Linked DNA regions of Homo sapiens: region 2 is linked to region 1. The links come from fine-mapping of genetic effects on gene expression. A gene starts in region 1. The other region holds a variant in brackets. All regions are shown on one strand. Distances are from middle to middle. Region 1 holds the start of GLIS1 (GLIS family zinc finger 1). Region 2 overlaps GLIS1 (GLIS family zinc finger 1).

Region 1 (9,834 bases):
CTGTGGCCACAAAAGACCTGAAGCTTGGCACCTCTCAGCCTCCCCTGGCTAGCACACCACAGTTAGCACCCTTCACATTCAGCATTTTAAAAATGTAACCTTGCTTCCTTCTCACTCTGTCCCCTTTATCTCAAGTGTCACTGACCCTTGCATGGGCCCTGCACGAATTAATAAAAGTGCCTCCTTCTACCTTTTTAGCTTATAAGGCATTCTTACAACTCTTGTTTTATTTACCCTGCAAGGTAGGCACCATTACCTCTCACGCAAATGAAAACCCAGAGGTTGAGAATGTGAAACAGGTTACAGTAGTAATCCTAAAAATAACCAGGCACTGAGGTGGCCCTTGCACATTCTTTATCACTAATGATCTCATCAGTCTTGCGAATTAAGTCTCAGGGTAAATTTACAAACGAAGGAACCAAAGGCTCAGAAGAGTAAAATCGATTCCCCCAAGTGCCACAGATCATAGATGGTGGGGTCTCACAATTCCCAGCACAGTCAATACATATTTTTCAATTGGTATTTCTGTCTGTTTCCAATAAGCCTGAGAACTTGGAGCTAGACACCAAATATTCAAAGGGTTACATGGTCTGGGACTATTTCGGTGGGAGTAGGGGCAGTAAGAAGGTGCCGTTTCCTCGCAGCATTTTTAAGGACGCTGAAGAACTGGGGGAAAGCTGGGTTTGTCTCGGGCCACTTGGTGACTGCACTGTGAGGAAAAGCTTGCCTATAGCAACACAGAGGCCAGCAGGGAAACCTCTCCAAGCCCAGGACCCTGAGCCTTCCCTTTCTCCCTAGGCCAGGTTAGGCCAGAGCTGTGGCTTCCCTAACCACTGCCCTACACATACCAAACACTTTCCCACCTTCAGGCCTCAGTTTCCTCACCCTTCAAATGAGTGGGATACATCCCACCACAACAGCCTCACTGGGAGGCTATGAAGAAAAGTTGTGAAACCTCTTGGAAAAAAGCTTCACCAGAGAGACCAGCTTAAGGTACAAAGAAAGAGGCTCTTCCTCCCATCCCTTTATTCTCCTCTGCCCTTTCCAAATGGAATCCTGACTTAAAGATCTTTTATTTTGGACATGTTTGGGGGCGTGCGTAAAAATAACTGGGGTTAGGGGGAATGGAAGTAGGAAGATCGTACACAAAGCCCCCAGGTGAAAGGTCTCACCATAGCGTGGAACAAAGATTATGTTCGGGAGAGCTGTTTGCTAGGTCTGCAGAGAACTCGATCTTCAGAGGACAGCCATGATTTTTTTAAACACAGAACGTTGCAGGAGGGTATCTATTTAAGGGAGGATTGTGTATGGAGCGGGGCAAGCCAGGGAGCTCCCGGCAGCAAACATTACTCATGTCTCGCTGCGCAGCGCTCCTCTCTGGTAAAAGAGACCTCATATGTGTGTATTCCAGCAATAACACTCAGCAGGCATTTCCCGCCCCTCCCCACTGTATCTGTCCTTCTAAAATATTATCTCTATCCCTTGAAAAAGAGGCTGGCATCTAAAACAAGGAGATGAGAAGTAGTTCTCTCTTACAAAGTCAAGTGTTTTCTTCAAAAAAGAAAAAAACTACTTATGTTTATTTCATTTTACTAATCCCTGAACCAGGGAGTTGGGTGTTTTTGATCCACAAGGAGCTCTCAACTCTAAAAGTAGGCTGCCTACCCCTTCCGAGTTGTGAGGCTGATGCTAGGAAGTGATGCCTATAACCGTAAAACCCAAACTGTTTTTGTCTTCCTTGAGAATCATCTGGAATGAGAACCAAGAGGTTCCAAATGCAGATATAGTCAAACCCCAAAGCCTTGGTTTCCCCTAAGGGAAAAAAAAAGGGGGGAGGACGAGGACACAGCATCTTAACAATTTCTCCAATTCCTGGTTAATTATCTGTCAGCACGAAACTCATAAATAATGACTCAATAATAATTAACTGTGATGAGAAGAGCATGTTCCTGAAAATCCCAGCACCATCTCCGACTTTGAGCCCATAAGCCATACTGGGACCCCCACCTTCCCGTGGCCAGCTTCACTGGGGGACGAAGGGACTTGCCAAGGAGCTTGTGACCCAAGACTAGGCTGCCGAAGCACCAAGTACAGAAAAGCCATGTTTAAGTTAGGACGTGACTAGGCTGGATTGCTGATGCAGAAAATTTTCCATCAGGAATCCAGAAATCATCTGGTTTAATTAATTCCTCACTTGACAGATGGGGAAACTGAGGTCCCAAAAGGAGAGGGGTCTTGCTAAAGGCCTCTGGGTTTTGTCAGCTGAGGAGATTGAAATACTTCAAACTATGCCTTGAGCTGCTCAGAAACAGATACCAATATATGCGTTGCTATTCGCCCTCATGTATAATAAAATTTTGACAAGTTTCTATGCAAGCTTTATCAGAAACACACAGAAGCAAAATTATGTAAGCTGAGAGCTTTCTATAAACACATTTCCCCAAACGGGGCTAATTGAATTTAAATTAGATGCTTCGCAAAGCAGGCATACTTTCACACTGACAAGCTAGTCCCAAACAATAAGAGAGAAACTGAGGAACTCCGAAGAAAGTTCCACCAAGCTCTCCCGAGCACGCGGTGGCGACGCCGGGCAGCCCGAATCTCCACAGGAGCCGCCAGGCACGTTGGCAGGGCCGAACTCACCCTTCCCGGCGGCGGCGGCCTTGGATGGACCGTAGTCTCGGGGACTGCGGGGCCGGAGGAGGTCGTGGGCGCGCGGTGGCGGCGCAGGCGGCCGGGCTAGCAGGTCCCGCGGGCCCCTGTCCCCGCAGCCGCCGCCACTCACGGTGACCCTGAAGGCCATGTGCGCGCCGAGGCTGGCGGGGCCGCGGTCGGGGCCGGGCGCACCAGGGGCCTCCTTAGGCCTCTTGTCCGAGTGTGCCTCAGCCACCTCGCAATGCATGGCGCCGGGGCGGGGCGCACGGCTGGGGGTCGCGCCGGGCTCCTGGGGAGGGGAGACAGCACAGCCAGTTAGAATGCGGAAAGCGGCCCCCGTATTGTCCCGGGGCCGAGTTTGAGCAGGTCACTGCCCCTTCGGTGGATTGCGCGTCTTTAACATAGGTTAGCACCACGACACCTAGCCCAATCAGAGGTCAAACCCACCTGATTCCACGCAAAAGCCCCCTCGCTCAGGAGCGGTTCGCCCTTCCCTGGTGTGGGGAGGACCCCAGGCCCCCGCGCCGCGGCGCATTACCGCGAAGTCCCACCCAAATCCTCCTCCACCGAAACCAGCCTCCTTTGCACGAATGGTGAAACTGAGGCCTGGAGCGGGTAAGGCGCCTGTTCCGCGTCCCCCAGTGGAACACGGAGCCGGCGGCAACGAGGATTCCCAGAGCAGGGCTCGGGCGAAGCCCCGGAGACGGCTCCGGGTAGGTCACGGGCTGCGCGCTTCGTCGACTCTCCGGGGCCGAGCTGCGCGCAGAAGCTGGGGACCCGAACCCAAAGGCCCGAGGGAAACCCCCAGAGACTCACCCGCGACCACCCGAACCTGGAAAACAGGAGTCCCAAGCTGGGCGCTGAATCCTGCGACGCGAACCCATCACGCGCAGCCGGGACACCCACATTCCTATGCGCAGCGGAGGAATCGAGCCCGTCGCGCGCGCAAACCGGCACAGTGGGCAATGCCCACGCGGCCGCCGCCACACACCCGCACACCCGCCGAGGCACGCCCGGGGACGGACACGCCACCCACACTGCCGCTGGTCAGACGCTCAGCAGCGCACAACCACACAGTCCCACGCTCTCGCCACACGCGCGTGCGATGGGGGCCGCGACAGAGCCTCCCTCAGCCCTTCCATCAGGGGCCCCCAAACTCTCCGTTCCCCTCCGCGCTCCCTGCGCCATCCCCAAGCTGCCGGGGTTCGAGCGTCGCCGGGACGCCAGCCTCGGATCTCGGGCCCCGCACACGCCCCTCCCTCGGCCGCGGGCCGCGCCCCCTCTCACCTCGCAGCGGCAGCTGCAGATCGCTGGGCGCCCGGCTCGGCGCGCCTCCACTGGCGCAGCAGCCCCCGCAGCCGCCGCAGCCGCCGCCGCCGCCGCCGCGTCCTGCGGGGCGGTTCCCCGGGGGACGGGGGCGGGCCCGCGTCTGCCCAACAGCCGCTCCAGCCACTGGCTGGCCGCGGCCGCCCGGCTCAGGCCAATCGCGGCGCGAGGGCGGGGCATCCCCCCCTGGGGGTCTGGGCGGGGCCCGACGCGGGGCTGAGCAGAGGGTTTGACAGGCGGCGGCCGGCTGGATCCCCGCGCTGCCCGCTGTTCTCAGACGGCCGAGCCGGGCAGGACGGCGGGGCGGCGCCGCGGCGAGAGAGGCTGGGCTCGGGGGTCGGCGGAGTGCGCTGGGCGTGAGGAGTGCCGGGCTGAACCCGGCTCCCTGCCCGCCTCTCCACTAGCCCCGGGCAGGATCCTCCCTTCTCCCGGTCGGTTTTCCCCTCCGTCAGATGGGAACGACGCTGTCTGCTAACGCGAAGCGGACAGATGCGAAAGTGCTTGAAAAGTTTTCTTGCAGAATCCAACCCTCTCACTGGAGAATTTGCAGAGATTTCACAGCTAGTGGGCAGCAAATTTGGGACCCAAACCCAGGCCTCTCAGCCCACTTTCTTACGTTTGTTTTTGTGTTTTCCGCCGGAAAGAGTCCAGGGTAAAAGGTCTCAAACTCTGAAGTTAAAGATAAAAAAATGGTGCCTGATCCCAACTAGGAAATATTCCAATTGAGTCTTGGGGAATAGGCCCCCAGCACTTAGGCTTTTAGCGAGCTCCCAGGAGATCCTTACAGATCTGGGGATTGAGACCCACTCTAGGGGTCTACTCTGTTGTCCTGCCTTCTGGGATTCCCCCACAGACAGCACGCAGTGTCTCAGGGGGCCCTGCCCAACGTGTAGGAAGAGCACGGGACAAAGAACAGTAAGGCTTCACAGAGCCTGCAGGCAATGGCTCAGTTCCCCGCTCTGAGCCTGAGTCCTCCCGTGTAAAATGGCAGTGTTTGCCTAGGCCTGGTCTACCTGCCATGCCTACCGAAGGATCCAGCCAAGCCCTGAAATGGTTTCTGCATTTCACCTAGGCGCCTCCTGTGCACTGTTTGATGGTGGTCTGGGCTGGCTCCAAGGGGCCTGACTGGTTTCGAACTCCTTTGAAGTCTGGTCTCTTTGACCTTGGTCTCAAACTGGAAAATGTATATGGAGCCCTTCTGGACTACACAACATGTCAAGTTCATAGCACAGGACTCTGCACAGAACAACCGACCCCAAGCAGCATCCTCAGAATCCTGGAAAACCAGGATTTTAGAATTTCAAAATCATAAAATTGGATTTCCTATAATTTGTTTAAAATAGTATCTAACAATTAGAGTAATAATAGTAAGAAAGACTTTGAGGTTTTAGTTAGACCCACCCTCCATTCAGAGGAGAAAGGACGTGACTGGCCTGTGTCAATGTGGTGGAGGGTGGCAGAGCCCCGGGATCCAGGCTTCCTGACTCCTGGCAATGCTGTTCCTTCAGTACCAACCACTCTGCTGCTCACAGGGAGAGGGTGTAAATCAACCATGCCCATAACACACAGGCCAAGGGTTGCGCCTCACTCAGTGCCTGCACCCCCCACCACCACATACTCTTGTGGAGTCACAGCTGGTTCTGCTGCCAACAAGCCATGTGGCTCTAGACGAATGGTAACCTCACTCTGGACCTCAGCTTCCCCCCTCCAAAGGCATGAAGTTGGAAGATCTCTGGCCTTTCTAGTTCTGCTCTTCTCTTCAGTAAGGCCAGGATCCAAGTCCTCTGCCCTCCCTCCACCCCCCACAATGCCCCCCCCCGCCGCCCCGCTGCAAAACACACACACACACAACAAGCACTGCGCTGCACATTTAGTCGGGACTCTGAAAACGTTTGCTGAATGAGTCATTTAACCAACTGGACCTGAAAGCAAAGGCCCTCCAAATTTCCAGATGAAGAAACAGCTCTTTCCATTATTCTTTTGAGCACTTACCCTGGGCCAGCCCCTATACCTGAGCTAGGGACACAGAAACACAGAACCCGCCCCCTCCCCTTCCCCTCAGTGAGCTCACAGGTCCACCTGACCAAAATAGGTGGGTTTGTGAAGGCTGGCAAAGTGATGAGAAGTTTAATCTGCTCAATAAAACAGACCTCTTAAACACTGTAAATGGCAGAACCCCTTTGGAGATACTCAGAATCTAGTAGGTATATGCTTTTTTTTTTTTCCACAAAGGAAACACAAGAAACTGTTAACAGTGGTTAAGGGAATGGAGGACTGAGGGAAGGCCTGCACTTTTCATTTTTATACTTGTCTGAACTGATTTGTGTTTTCTAAGTATATATTATCCTCCCTCTCTCTCTCTTTTTTTTTTTTTTTTGTTTTCTTTTTCTTTTTTGAGACAGAGTCTCACTCCTCTGTCTGCCCAGGCTGGAGTCCAGTGGCACAATCCCAGCTCACGGCAACCTCTGCCTCCCAGACTCAAGTGATTCTTCTGCCTTAGCCTCCAGAGCAGCTGGGACTACAGGCGCGCACCACCATGCCTGACTAATTTTCGTATTTTTAGTAGACAAGGTTTCACCATATTGGCCAGGCTGGTCTCGAACTCCTGACCTTGTGATCCGCCCACCTTGGCCTCCCAAAGTGCTGGGATTACAGGCATGAACCACTGTGCCCGGCCCCTCCCTGTCTTTCAATAGGGGTTATTTGAGCAGTGGGATTATGTGCTGCATTTTTTTCCTTTATATTTTTGGTATTAAAATAAAACTCCTTAATATTTTAATTGTCAAAAACAAAATAAAGTGAAACACAGTAACCTGCTTCTCACTTTAGCAGGCTAGACAGTAATGTCTGCTTTTTACACTAACCCGTGTTACAACTCACACTCTCTTCTGCCCTCCCACAGTCTGTCTACTGGATATCTCTATCAGGATCCATCTGCAAAATCGAACATCATTTTTTCATCTCTGACGTTGCTCCTCACTCCTATGTCCCTAACTGGGTGAATGGCCCTATGGCCAACTCCCCCAGTTCAGAAATCTGAGTCATCCTCAGCCCCTCCTCTCCCATACTCCTATATCTGACTTGTCATAAATTTAACTAACAATCCTCCTCCTCTCCATCCTCACTACTACATTTCTTCCAAGTTCTTTTTGCCTCCATCCTCATCCTTCTCCTAATTAGTGATTTTCCACACTGGTCTCCTTATCAGTCTCTAAAGTATAGATCTGGCCGGGCACAGTGGCTCCCACTTGTAATCACAGTACTTTGGGAGGCCAAGACAGGAGGATCACTTGAGGCCAGGAATTGGAGACCAGACTGGGCAGCATAGCAAGACCTTGTCTCTACAAAAAATAAAATAAAAAATAGTCAGGCATGGTGGCCTGCACCTATACTATCAGCTAATCAAGAAGCTGAGGTGGAGGATCCCTTGAGTCTAGGAGTTTGAGACTGCAGTGAGCTATGATCATACCACCATACTCCAGGCTAAGTGACAGAGAGAGACCCTGTCTCTAAATAAATAAGTAAATAAATAAATAAATAAAAATATAGATCTGACCATGGCACTTCCCTGTTTAAATCTCATAGCTCCCAATGGCCATCTAAATAAAATCAAACCATTTTCTTACCCTGCTCCCACCCCTACCCTATGTTCCAAGCACCTTGGAATAGTTTTCATCTCCTAGAATCCGGAACATATATTCATGCCTTCATAGCTCTGTATATGATTTCTCCTATGCTAATATTTTCTCCCCTTATTCACCTTGCCTACTTCTTCCTATGAATCATTTCATACCCAGCCCAAGTGTCACCTTCCCACAAGCCTTCCCTGAATCCTCGAGGGGGCTATAGCTATTTTCTCCCTGCACACTTTCACAATCCTCTGCTTTATTCTATCTGAGAACTTATTACAGTTTTGTAACTGCCTGTGTAACAGCCTGTCTCCCCCCTCTAGAATGAGACCTCTGTGAGGTCAGGGGCAGCTTTTTGCCTTTCTATCTTCAGAACCTAGAAGAGATTCCTGCACAAAGTAGGTAAATATTTACTGAATGCTGATTGAATTATTAAAGACTCACCACTAATTCATTTGCTTGCCTACATTTCTAGCTAAGAGCTTCCCCACCCTATCAAGACGTCTCTCCTCACTGTCTTTGTTCAGGGGTGTAAGCATTCACTCAGCAAATGGTTGAGGTAAAAGTAGACATTTCTGTGTCTAAGGTGTCCTGTGTCCAGGAGATAGGAGGAAGGAGAAGGAAGAGAGGTGATCGATGTTACACTGCTTACCCTGCCTCTGTGTCTTGCAGCAAGGGAAGAATTAACATGGGGAACCTACCATGTACCATGGCTGACACTCTCCATATGTGACCTCACTTAATCCTGACAACTCTGGATAAAGAGGTTATCATCCCTATTTTACAGGTGAGAAGATAAAAGTTCAAAATTAAGTGACCTCCCAAAGTTCCCACAGTCAAGAGCGTCTCTGCCTCCCATACATCTATGGCCAACTGATTTTCAATAAGAGTGCCAAGACCACTCACTGAGGAAAGAATTGTCTCTTCAACAAATGGTATTGGGACAACTGGATATCCACCTGCCAAAGAATGAAGTTGGATCCCATCTCACATCATATTCAAAAAGTAATTCACAATGGACCAATGACCTAAATGTAAGAGCTAAAACCATGAAATGCTTAGAAGAAAACACAGAGGTACACACCTTTTTAAAAAATAATTTTTAGGAGTAAATCTTCTTGATCTTGGATTTGGCAGTGGATTTTTTTTTTTTTTTTTTTTGACAGAGTCTCACTCTGCTACAACACAATGGTGCAATCTGGGCTCACTGCAGTCTCAACCTCCTGAGTTCAAGGGATCCTCCCACCTCAGCCTCTCAAGTAGGTGGGACCACACACTCTCAAGTAGGTGGGACAACAGGTGTGTGCAACCATGCTCAGCTAAGTTTTTAAATTTTTTGTAGAGACAAAGTCTCACTATATTGCCCAGGCTGGTCATATATCCTGGGCTCAAGTGATCTTCCCATCTTGGCCTCTCAAAGTGCTGGGATTACAGTCATGAGCCACCACACCAGTCTGGATCTTTGATACAATACCAAAAACATGAGCAATAAAATAAAAAATAAATTAGGCTTCATCAAAATTTAAAACTTTTGTACACCAAAGAACATTATCAAAATACTGAAGAGACAACCTACAGAACGGGAGAAAATATAGGCAAATCATATATCTGATAAGGGTCTAGCCTCCAGAATATACAAAGAACTCACACGACTCAAAAACAAAAACACAACCCAACGAAAAAATAGGCACAGGAGTTGAATAGACATTTCTTCAAAGAAGATATACAAGTGGCCAAGCACATGAAAAGATGCTCAACATTATTAGCCATTAGGAAAATGCAAATCATAACCAGAATGAGCTACTAGAGAAGCTGAGGTAGGAAGATTGCTTGAGGCCAGGAGTTCGAGACTGCAGTGCTGATGATCACGTCTGTGAATAGCCACTGCACTCTAGCCTGGGCAACATAGTGAGACCCTATCTCCAAAAATTTTTTTAAATTTTTTAAATAAATAAAAACAAAACACAATAAAATATCACTTCACATCCAATAGGATGATATAACTGAATAAAAGGAATGTCTCAAGTTGAATGATGAGGAATCATAAAAAAAAATGAGTGTTGGTGAGGATGTGGAGAAATAGGAACCCTCAAACATTGCTGGTGGAAATGTAAAATGGTTCAGCCACTTTGTATTTTTTAGTAGAGATGGGGTTTCACCATGTTGGCCCTGCTGGTTTCAAACTCCTGAACTCAGGTGATCCACCCCCTCGGCCTCCCAAAGT
Region 2 (8,648 bases), 200 kb before region 1:
CACCTGGCTGATTTTCATGGCCTTGGCTCAAGGCTGTTCAGCACATTGAGTAATTTCTGGTGCGAGGCTGTTCACTGGGACAGACTGGCTCCAGTCTGCGGTGAGTGCCAAGCTGCAGAGAGAACTCAGACATGGGTCCTGCCCTCTAGGTGTAGAGAGCCCATGTGGGAGATGCACACACGCACACCACCATAAAGCGACGTGGTTGAGATGTCACAGAGGGAGACACAGGGGCTGTGGCCACACAGAGGAGATGCCTGAGGCAGCCTGTGGGCCGCGAGCTGCTTCCACGGGCTTGATGACTGTAGCGAGCTTAGACAGACATGTAGCAGTGTGGAGACACAGGCAGGCAATTCCCCCAACACTGATGCATTCACCTCATTCTGTCTCTGGCCCTGCCCGAGCCCTGAACTGCAACCAACAGATCCAAAGAAGATAGTGGGGTGACGCACACTGAAGGCCAAGGAAGGGCAGGCACCAAAGCATGAAAAAGGCACAGATTCCCTGTGAAGGCCCCTGAGTGGTTGATGTGGGGTTCATTACGCTGGGGGTGGGCTGGGCTCTACTGGGCAAGGAGTCTGCAGGGAGCTCAAAGGCCAGATAGCGGGGACTCAAATGCTGGGCCAGTGAGCCTGGACTCCACCTTGGGGAAAGTGGAGACACTTCTCCTAAAGAAGGGAAAGGACAGGCTCAGATATGTGCCCTAGGAAGACCTCTCTGGCTGCTGGTGACAAGTGGGGACCGGGGGAGGAGACAGGAAGATGGCAATTGTAGCAGTTCCAGAGGAGGGTCACCAACGCCCCATCCAGGGCAGAGGTGGCAGATGGAGCACAGGCCAGGGCAGAGCTGCTCAGACAGATATGAGAGACACAAGAGACACGAGAGACAATGATGGTTCCGGGACAGCTCCCTCTGCGCCTGTCCCCTGGAAGCCCAGTCACAACTTGGGGCCGTGCTCTGCTGGGGCGGGTCCAAGGCGAGCCACCCACAGCTGGGTTTTAGAAGCTGTTCTGCTTCCTACTTCCAGATGTTGTGCCTTTTTCATGCATCCAAACCAGGAGGAAATCCTGTTTGGGCAGTAAATAGGCTGCAAGCCACCTCCCTTGCTCGCCTGCAATGGCCTTGTGCCAAGTTCACCCCAACGTGAGATGGGGGAGCCCGGGCTGGAGAGTGGGGCTTCCTCTCAGCATCCTTTGTTCCCCTCTGGCCCATGCAGGGCAGGGAGGTATCTACAGCAGAGGACAATAACTCCTCCAGGCTTCGTCATTTTCCTGACTGTGGGAGAGTGCTGGAAGGTGGACCATGATCGATACATCATCTTCTCCCCGAGGTCTGTGTATTCCTGCCTTGGCCAACCCTCTGCTCAGCACAGTTGCTCTGTCTCTATTCGGACTGTCCCCCTCCTGGGACTCCTTCCCTTCCAACTCTCTGACCATCTAATTCATACGTTTTTCAAACACAGGATCTGCAGCTTGGTGTTCATGGTCTTCCAACATGGACCCAACTGCCTCTCCCATGCAGACGCTCCACGCGTGATCTGCAGGAGTGAGACTGTGTCTGAACAGTCCTGAATTCTGTTAGGAATTTCCATGCCCTCAGGCCTTTACTTCAGTTGTTCCCTAGGCCTGGAATGCCTTTCCTTTATTTGCTCTTTTAGCAAACATCTACTCCTGTTGCTTAAGCACTCTCTCTCAGAAGCCTGCCTCAAACTTCCCCACCCCATCCTCTGTGACACCCATGAGCTTGTGGGGTAGGTTTTCCCTGCACAGCCATGGCCTTCTCCCCATGCCTCCAGGCTGAGAGTTTGAGAGTTCCTTGAGAGCAGGGCTGGCATCTCAATCATGGGGCAAAGGGTGGGACAGAAGCATGATATGGGGGTTGCTGGGCATGCAGTCCACGCACCCCTGTGAGTACACCCCCTTACCCCAGTGTGCAGAAAGGTACCCCGATAAGTGCGTGTGCCCTGATGCCTGTGCTGTGCCCATGTATGTTGGCCCAGCCTTGTTCTGCTCCCCGCCCCCTGGAACTTTCCAGAGCTGAGCCACAGGCTGGGGTATAATGAGCAGCTGGCTGGGATGCCCTGATGAGAGTGGCCCGTCCCTCCAGGTGGAAACAGAGGTACCAGCAGACGAAGGGGCACTGCCCCATCAGGACTGGTCTGGGATGAGGATGCTGCAGGCACCCCTGGCAGAGCCAGAGTCATGCCCCATCAGGACCAGCATCCCAGACACGCCAGGGGCCTTGAGGGCCTATGGGATCTGCCTGCAGCTGGCTGCCAAGGTCCCTGTGGTCCTTCCTAGTCAACAACTGCACAGATGGGGACAACAGAGGCACAGAAAGAGGGATGAGAGCGACCATCAGTTCAGCACCTATTGTGTGCTTGGTTCTGCTGGGCCTGGTGCTGTCACAAATGTGGCACCTTATCTTCTTCACTGCCCAGTAGGCAAGTATTACTGTCTCCACTGACAGATGGGGAGCTGATGCTCAGGGTGCAGCCAGCACAGGGGTTACACACACGGACCCTGGTGTAGACCCAGCCCAGGGGGAGCTCTCTGGGTCCCGGGAGCAGCCTCCAATGAGTGCGAGGTAGCCTTTGGGGTGGGTGTGGCTTGAAGGGCCCCCATCCATAGGCTGTGTAGGGCTGGGAGGGCTGCAGGGAGGGAACCCCCACCATTGGGTTGTGGGGGCACAGATGCTGCAGAATGGATGCATGGGGCTTGTGAGACCAGAAATGCAGCCATCTAGCACGTCCCTGGCTTCGACCTTGGTTTCTCAGGTGGAGGGAGGACTTACCTTCAGGTAATGGCACCACGACCCGAGGGCATCGTAATGATTCCATGGGGCCTGCACCACAGGGAGTGCCACTGGGGCGGGGCCTTCCTGACATCCCGGTCGCCTCAGGCTCTATGGTACATTTGTCCTGGACAGACACCTGCTTCCTGCTGCCAGTGTCCAAGGGTACAGGCTGGCAGAGCAGACCCTGGACCCCCACTGCAAGGGCTGAGTGCCTCTATGTGGGGGGTTCAGAGAGGGAGATTGTTCCCCCTGTGCCAGGGGCACTGAGCCTGAGCTATGCCATAGGCAGAACTGCCATCTCTCCTGAGAAAGAAGTGCCTGCAACACAAGGTAAGCCCTGTGGCCTGAAAGCCAGCTGTGCACCCCATCCCTCCACCCCCACCTGACCACCCACCCCATCCCTGCTACTGTGCACCCCCCATCCTTCCACTCACGCACTTCTGCGAGTCACTCACTCATCCTCTCCTCTTTGAGCACACAGGTTCTTATCCTCCTGCCTCACTCAGCTGCCCCTCTGTGTGCCTGGCAGTGTGCTCTGAGCTGAGACCCAAGGGCGTCAAAGACCCATAGCTCCAAACACACTGGAACTTGTTCAGAGCCCTAGGAAGGGGCTGACCCGGGGGCTTCTGGCTGGCAGAGGCTGGGGAGCTACAAAAGCCTTCACAGAGGAGCTCAGCCCTGACACCCAGGCAGGGGCTAGAAACACAGAGCCAGGAAAAGCATTCCAGGGAGAGGGCAAAGCATGAACAAAAGCAGGGAGGCTGGAAGAGGTGGGATATGTTCTGGAAACAGCTAAGGATCTATTGAGCAGAGAAGGAAGGGAAGCAGGGAGAGGAGAGGTGAAAGTAGAAATGGGAGTTTTGGGGGCTCCCTTCATTCAAACACATGGGGTAGTGGTTCCTTCTGCAGCAGGCAAATTTGGGGATTTTTGATTCTAAAGACTTCACAGAAGCCACTCCATGCAAGGACTGATGTGGCACAGGCTCTTCACTTGAGGGACTCTGGTGCGACTTCTGCTGGCTGGACCACCCCAGGTCACGCAGGGCTGATGCCCTGGGTCTGAGCTGTCACTGTTTCTTCCATCTACCTTTACTAAGCACCTACCGTGAGTCCAGGCACTGGGCTGGACCGGTGCAGGAGGGTGCGACATGGGCCCCTAAGCCTCAAGCACATATGGCCCTGAGTTGCTGGCACATGGCCAGCCCACCTTGGGGCCTCTCAGTCCCTCATGGTGGATGGCTGGGTGGGTATGGGGCCCCTGACCTCCCACCTTCTACCTGGATGCTTGAGCCAGGAACATGTTCCCTCCTCTCTGGGCCCTGCATCCAACTAGTCACCAGCCCAGGAAATGCCACCTTGTAATCACCTTCCAGGTCTGCCCCCTTCTCTTCTTATCCACCCACTGCCCTAATCCACACCCCAGCATCACTTACCTGGGTGACTGCACAGGTGCCATCCTGCCTCCCTCCTGCCTTTCCCAACCCATTTCCACGAGCTATCTGAAAAGAAGACTTAAGCCCATAGCTCTGTGTCCCTCCCTGCTCAAACCCTGCATGGTTCCCCAGTGCCTCAACATGTACAGATCCTCACCCTGGCATTCTGGCCAGCATGATCTGGTCCCTTGGTGCTGGCTTGGTGGCATCTGTACCCTCCAACCCCCGTACCCACACCAATGCATTCCAGCTTCAGATCAGCCTGGGTGCAAAGCTGGCCTCCACGCTTCCCGACCCGATGAATCAGGGTGAGCTCATTTCACTTGTCAGAGACCAGATACCTCAGATGTAAGAAGGGGCACACTGTGGGGGCTCTGTGAACCACTGTGTGCAGAGGCATCAGCGCTCTGACGCCATCTGTCCATGCAGAGAATGA[T/C]ACAGGCACCTTCTGTCGAGGGTGGATTTGAGACACACTGGCTCAAATAACCAAAAACACAACAGACTGATCTGGCTAGAAGGAAGGGCTCCCACACCATGGGAACAGAGAAGGTGATACTGAGGGCAGGGGGTACCCAGGATGGGGAGAAGGAAAAGCAGGCATGTATAACAATCTTGAAAAATGTAAGAATAGGTGGTTAGGTTTTTCTTATTTACCCCAAAATACACAAACAGTAAAACATATTTGAAGATGAAGTTGGGGTGAATTCAGAATGACAGTAGTGACTGGGTGACACTTTCTCTGACACCTACCGTAGGCCAAGTGCTGTGTGTGTTTCATTTAATTCAGACAACGTTCCCCGCTGAGGAAGCTACTTCCCAGCCCACTCTGCAGAATAAGAAACTGAGGCTCAGAAGGGTGATGTCACTGGCTCCAGGTCACACAGCCAGTCAGTGACGGAGCAGGAATCTGACCTTGGGTCTGGCTGATGAGTCTATATGTGTCCCTAACCACTCTGGCCACTGCCTCAGGGACTCCTACCTAAAGCACCAAAAGACAAGTTCTCTCTCAGGAGCTAGTACTGTCATTTCAAACCAGGCGTCACAGGTTCCATTCCTGGGGCAAGGCCAGGCCTGGGCCCAGCCCCAGAGCTGACGCTGGGAAGGGAGGATGCCCACAGTGGATGCCTCCATGCAGAAAGGAAAACCAGGTGGCACAGTGGAGAAGAAAGTACCAGCTGATCCACAGAACAGCCTTGAAAGGCCCAATTCCCACATGTGGGGTGTGTTACAGCAGAAGATTAAAAAAACGGGGAAAATACCCCGGGAACCGTGAAGCCCCAGACCATCTGGAGTTTTATAGTGACAGGCAGGGGAAAATCAGAACCTAATTGAAAAATGTCCACTGCAATCCATTACTGCTGCGTGCCGCTCACAGAGCAGAGGGCAGGAGATGAAAGACAGAGGGGAGCCATCCCAGGAGCCAGGCAGGGGGTGGCATCCTCGCCTCTGGGCCAAGCCCAGGGACCCCTCAAGCTCTGGCTTGGGGAGGGGGAGGGCTGAAGCCCAAGATCCGCTGGGGGCTGGCTCAGACGTTCAAGTTGCAGGGTGGGTCCACCTTCCTCAGCAAGCCACACTCAGAGCCTTTTATGCATCTGTGGACGGGCTAAGAGCATGCAGGGGAGCCCCAGCACAGTGCCTGGCGTGCCGCTGGCACTAGGTGATGGCTCTTCTCTCCCTCTGGCTCCTGGGGAAGAACCAAGGGCCCTGTTTCACATGTGAGTTGGTGACACCATGCCGCAAACCAAAGTGCTGCAAATCAAGTCACGCAAACAGAGGTTTGTGCTGGGGATCCACCACCGGGAGCCTGAACCTGGGCTAGTCACGCCTCATTTCTGTCCTCGTTTTTCTCTTCTCTAAAATGGGGCCACCACAAACGGCTGGTAGAAGTAAATAAAAGAATATGCCCAGTGTAGGAACTGGCACATAGCTGGTGCCTAATGAATGTCAAGTTTCCTGCCTGCGGCTGGCATGGCCCAAAAAGGAGGCAGGGTTCAGTTTCTCATGCTCTAACTAAGAATCTGGACACAGAGTGAAGAGGAGGTTTGGGGGAACAGGGCATGGCACGGGGGCAGGGGAGGAAATGCCTTCAGTTTTAGCATTTGCCAGTGACTTGCTTCTAAATAAACACATTTCTGGTTTAAGGGTAAAATATATTGGGTTACAAAAGTCTGGCAGGCCATTCAGGGATCAACTTCTCATTTTTGTACGAACTTTTAAGTTACTTTACAACAATGATGTGGATGGGAGAAATGCAATGCCAGCTCCTTCTCCAACATGTCAAATAATCCTGCGTTTGGCCAGCTTTAAAGGCCAGCAAGCTGGGCACTGAGGGCCGCTCCTCGCTCCTGCACTCTGGGAGGGGCCGCTGGCTGGCCTGAGGTTACTGTCCTGTGCTCCCCCGTGGGGCTCCTTGAGGGTCTCCTCAGAGTTTGGGGCTTCGCCAGTCCTCTGTGGGGAGGTTGAGGCAAGAATGGAACGGACAGACGGGAGGAGGGTCCTGGGGGTGAGGCTGGAGGGCACTGACCCGGGCTCTTTGATTTGGACCGTGAGGCTCTCGAGGGTCTGGTGTTTGGGGATGCAGTGCCACCTGCATACATGAATGGAAAGTGGGGCATGTGCGGGGACTGAGCAGAACAGCAGCTATCACATTGACCATGTGCCTAGGACTGGGCCAAGCTCTCCCTAAACACCATCTCACTAATCCTGCAACCCCTATTGTTACAGAGGTGGAAACTGAGTTTAGGTGAAGTGCCAGAGTCCCAGCGCTCACTCATGGGATGGAGCCTGGGTTCACCTCCAGTGCCGAGGTCTGTGCCCTGGGCACACTCTGGTCCCAGGTAGCCATGATCGAGCACTGCCATGAGAGGCAAGACCATCTGCTCACTGGGCCTTCATAAGCAGCTGGCAGGCCAGGGAGGGCTGGGGGCACACAGTGAGGCAAGGGAGAACAGGACAGAGGGACCATACACCTCCTCTGGGAGCCCATGCGGGTGGGCCTGTCCTTGGGAGGAGGATCTCAAGGCTGAGGGGGTGGGGGCTGCAGACACCCTGACCCTTCCTCACCAGGAACACACTGACAGCTCTGGGCTGGGCTCTTCTCTGGCAAAAGTTCCTGTCTGGGCAAGAAATGGGTTCCTGTCCCCAGCAGTGCAGTTGAGGCATCTCCTGGAAAGGTGGCCGGCCAGCAAGGATCAAGAGAGTCACCCTTCCAGGGCATGTGGAACCCCCGAAAGTAGGAGGTGCAGGAGGGGCTGAGTCAGCTTCTCTTGGGCCCAAGTGGACAGGTGGGATCCAGGGGCTCTCCCAGTGCAGAGCTGTGGCTAGACATCGTCTGGAATGAGGAAAGAGGCTCTGCCAGGGGCCAGGGCTCCGCAGAGAGCACACAGCATAGAATGGCTGACACATGTACACCAAGCCACCAGCCACAGGCCCAGAAACGTGGACACTCACACACTCTGATGTGAACACCTCTCCCTCCAACCAAGCCACACGTCGGAGACAGCCCCAACACACACCAACACACACACATGGATTCACACACACACACACACCAAGACCCAGAAACTCCCTCACACACACACACACACACTACACCTAAACACACACACCCCAATTCACCCACACATACCATATCCCCACATATATACCACATAACACACCCACACATATCATACCACACACACACTCCACAGCACATGAATGCACACCCCACACACACACCATACCACACATCACAGCACACCCCCAATACATACACATCATACCTCCCACACACACGTACCACACCCCCAACATACACACACCACACCACACACACACATACCACACGGTATACACCCCCCCACACACACTACACATCATACACATAAACTGTGTTTACACCCCATGACTCATATCACAAAAACACACAGGCCAGGACACACATGTTCACACATATACCCAAAGACGTCCAAGCCCCAGACCTGCCACATTCACAAACACACTAACCCCCACCCACCAGCCACACCGACACACTGCCCCACGCATAGCACAGCACACGTGGAAACTGGCCACCTGGAACATGGATGTGCGTGTGGGGTTCACTGAGGGGCTGGGTCCACTGCGCCTCCTGACCTCTGAGTGGTGGCTGGCCTGGCCTGGCCTTGGGGACAGCATGCATAGCCTGAGAGATCTCCACTGACCTCTCTAGCCCAATGTCTACTTCCCTCCCCACGCTGCAGCCACAGGCCACACATTGCCGCCTCCACGCCTTTGCCCATGCGGTGTCCTCTGCTCAAGGTGCCCCTGTTCACTGGCCAGTCCTCCTTGTCACTCTAGGCTTGGCTCAAGCCTGAGGCCTTCCCAGTTCTCTCACTGTCATCCCGATGCTGCGGCCAGGACTGCCGGTCCCTTACCACTCTCCTACCATTCAAGCATCAC

Evidence for each region. PIP is the estimated chance that this variant, and not a neighbour inherited with it, causes the effect. A credible set is the group of variants that fine-mapping cannot tell apart.
Region 2: its variant is the best candidate, but not a certain one, in a credible set for the expression of GLIS1 in cerebellar hemisphere (GTEx, PIP 0.82).

What each region holds. Positions count from the first base shown.
Region 1 is chr1:53,735,163-53,744,996 of GRCh38, forward strand. GLIS1 (GLIS family zinc finger 1) reads right to left here and starts at 4,002. Exons shown (of 11, transcript NM_001367484.1): 1 at 3,943-4,002; 2 at 2,644-2,944. The coding sequence starts at 2,902. RefSeq lists an enhancer at 3,418-4,136 and silencers at 3,822-3,991, 4,002-4,351.
Region 2 is chr1:53,531,482-53,540,129 of GRCh38, forward strand. The region is part of intron 4 of GLIS1 (GLIS family zinc finger 1); the gene reads right to left. Among named protein-coding and RNA genes, the nearest start is that of DMRTB1, 76 kb to the left of the region's middle. RefSeq lists an enhancer at 7,913-8,648. The variant T/C (reference allele first, on the strand shown) is at 4,666.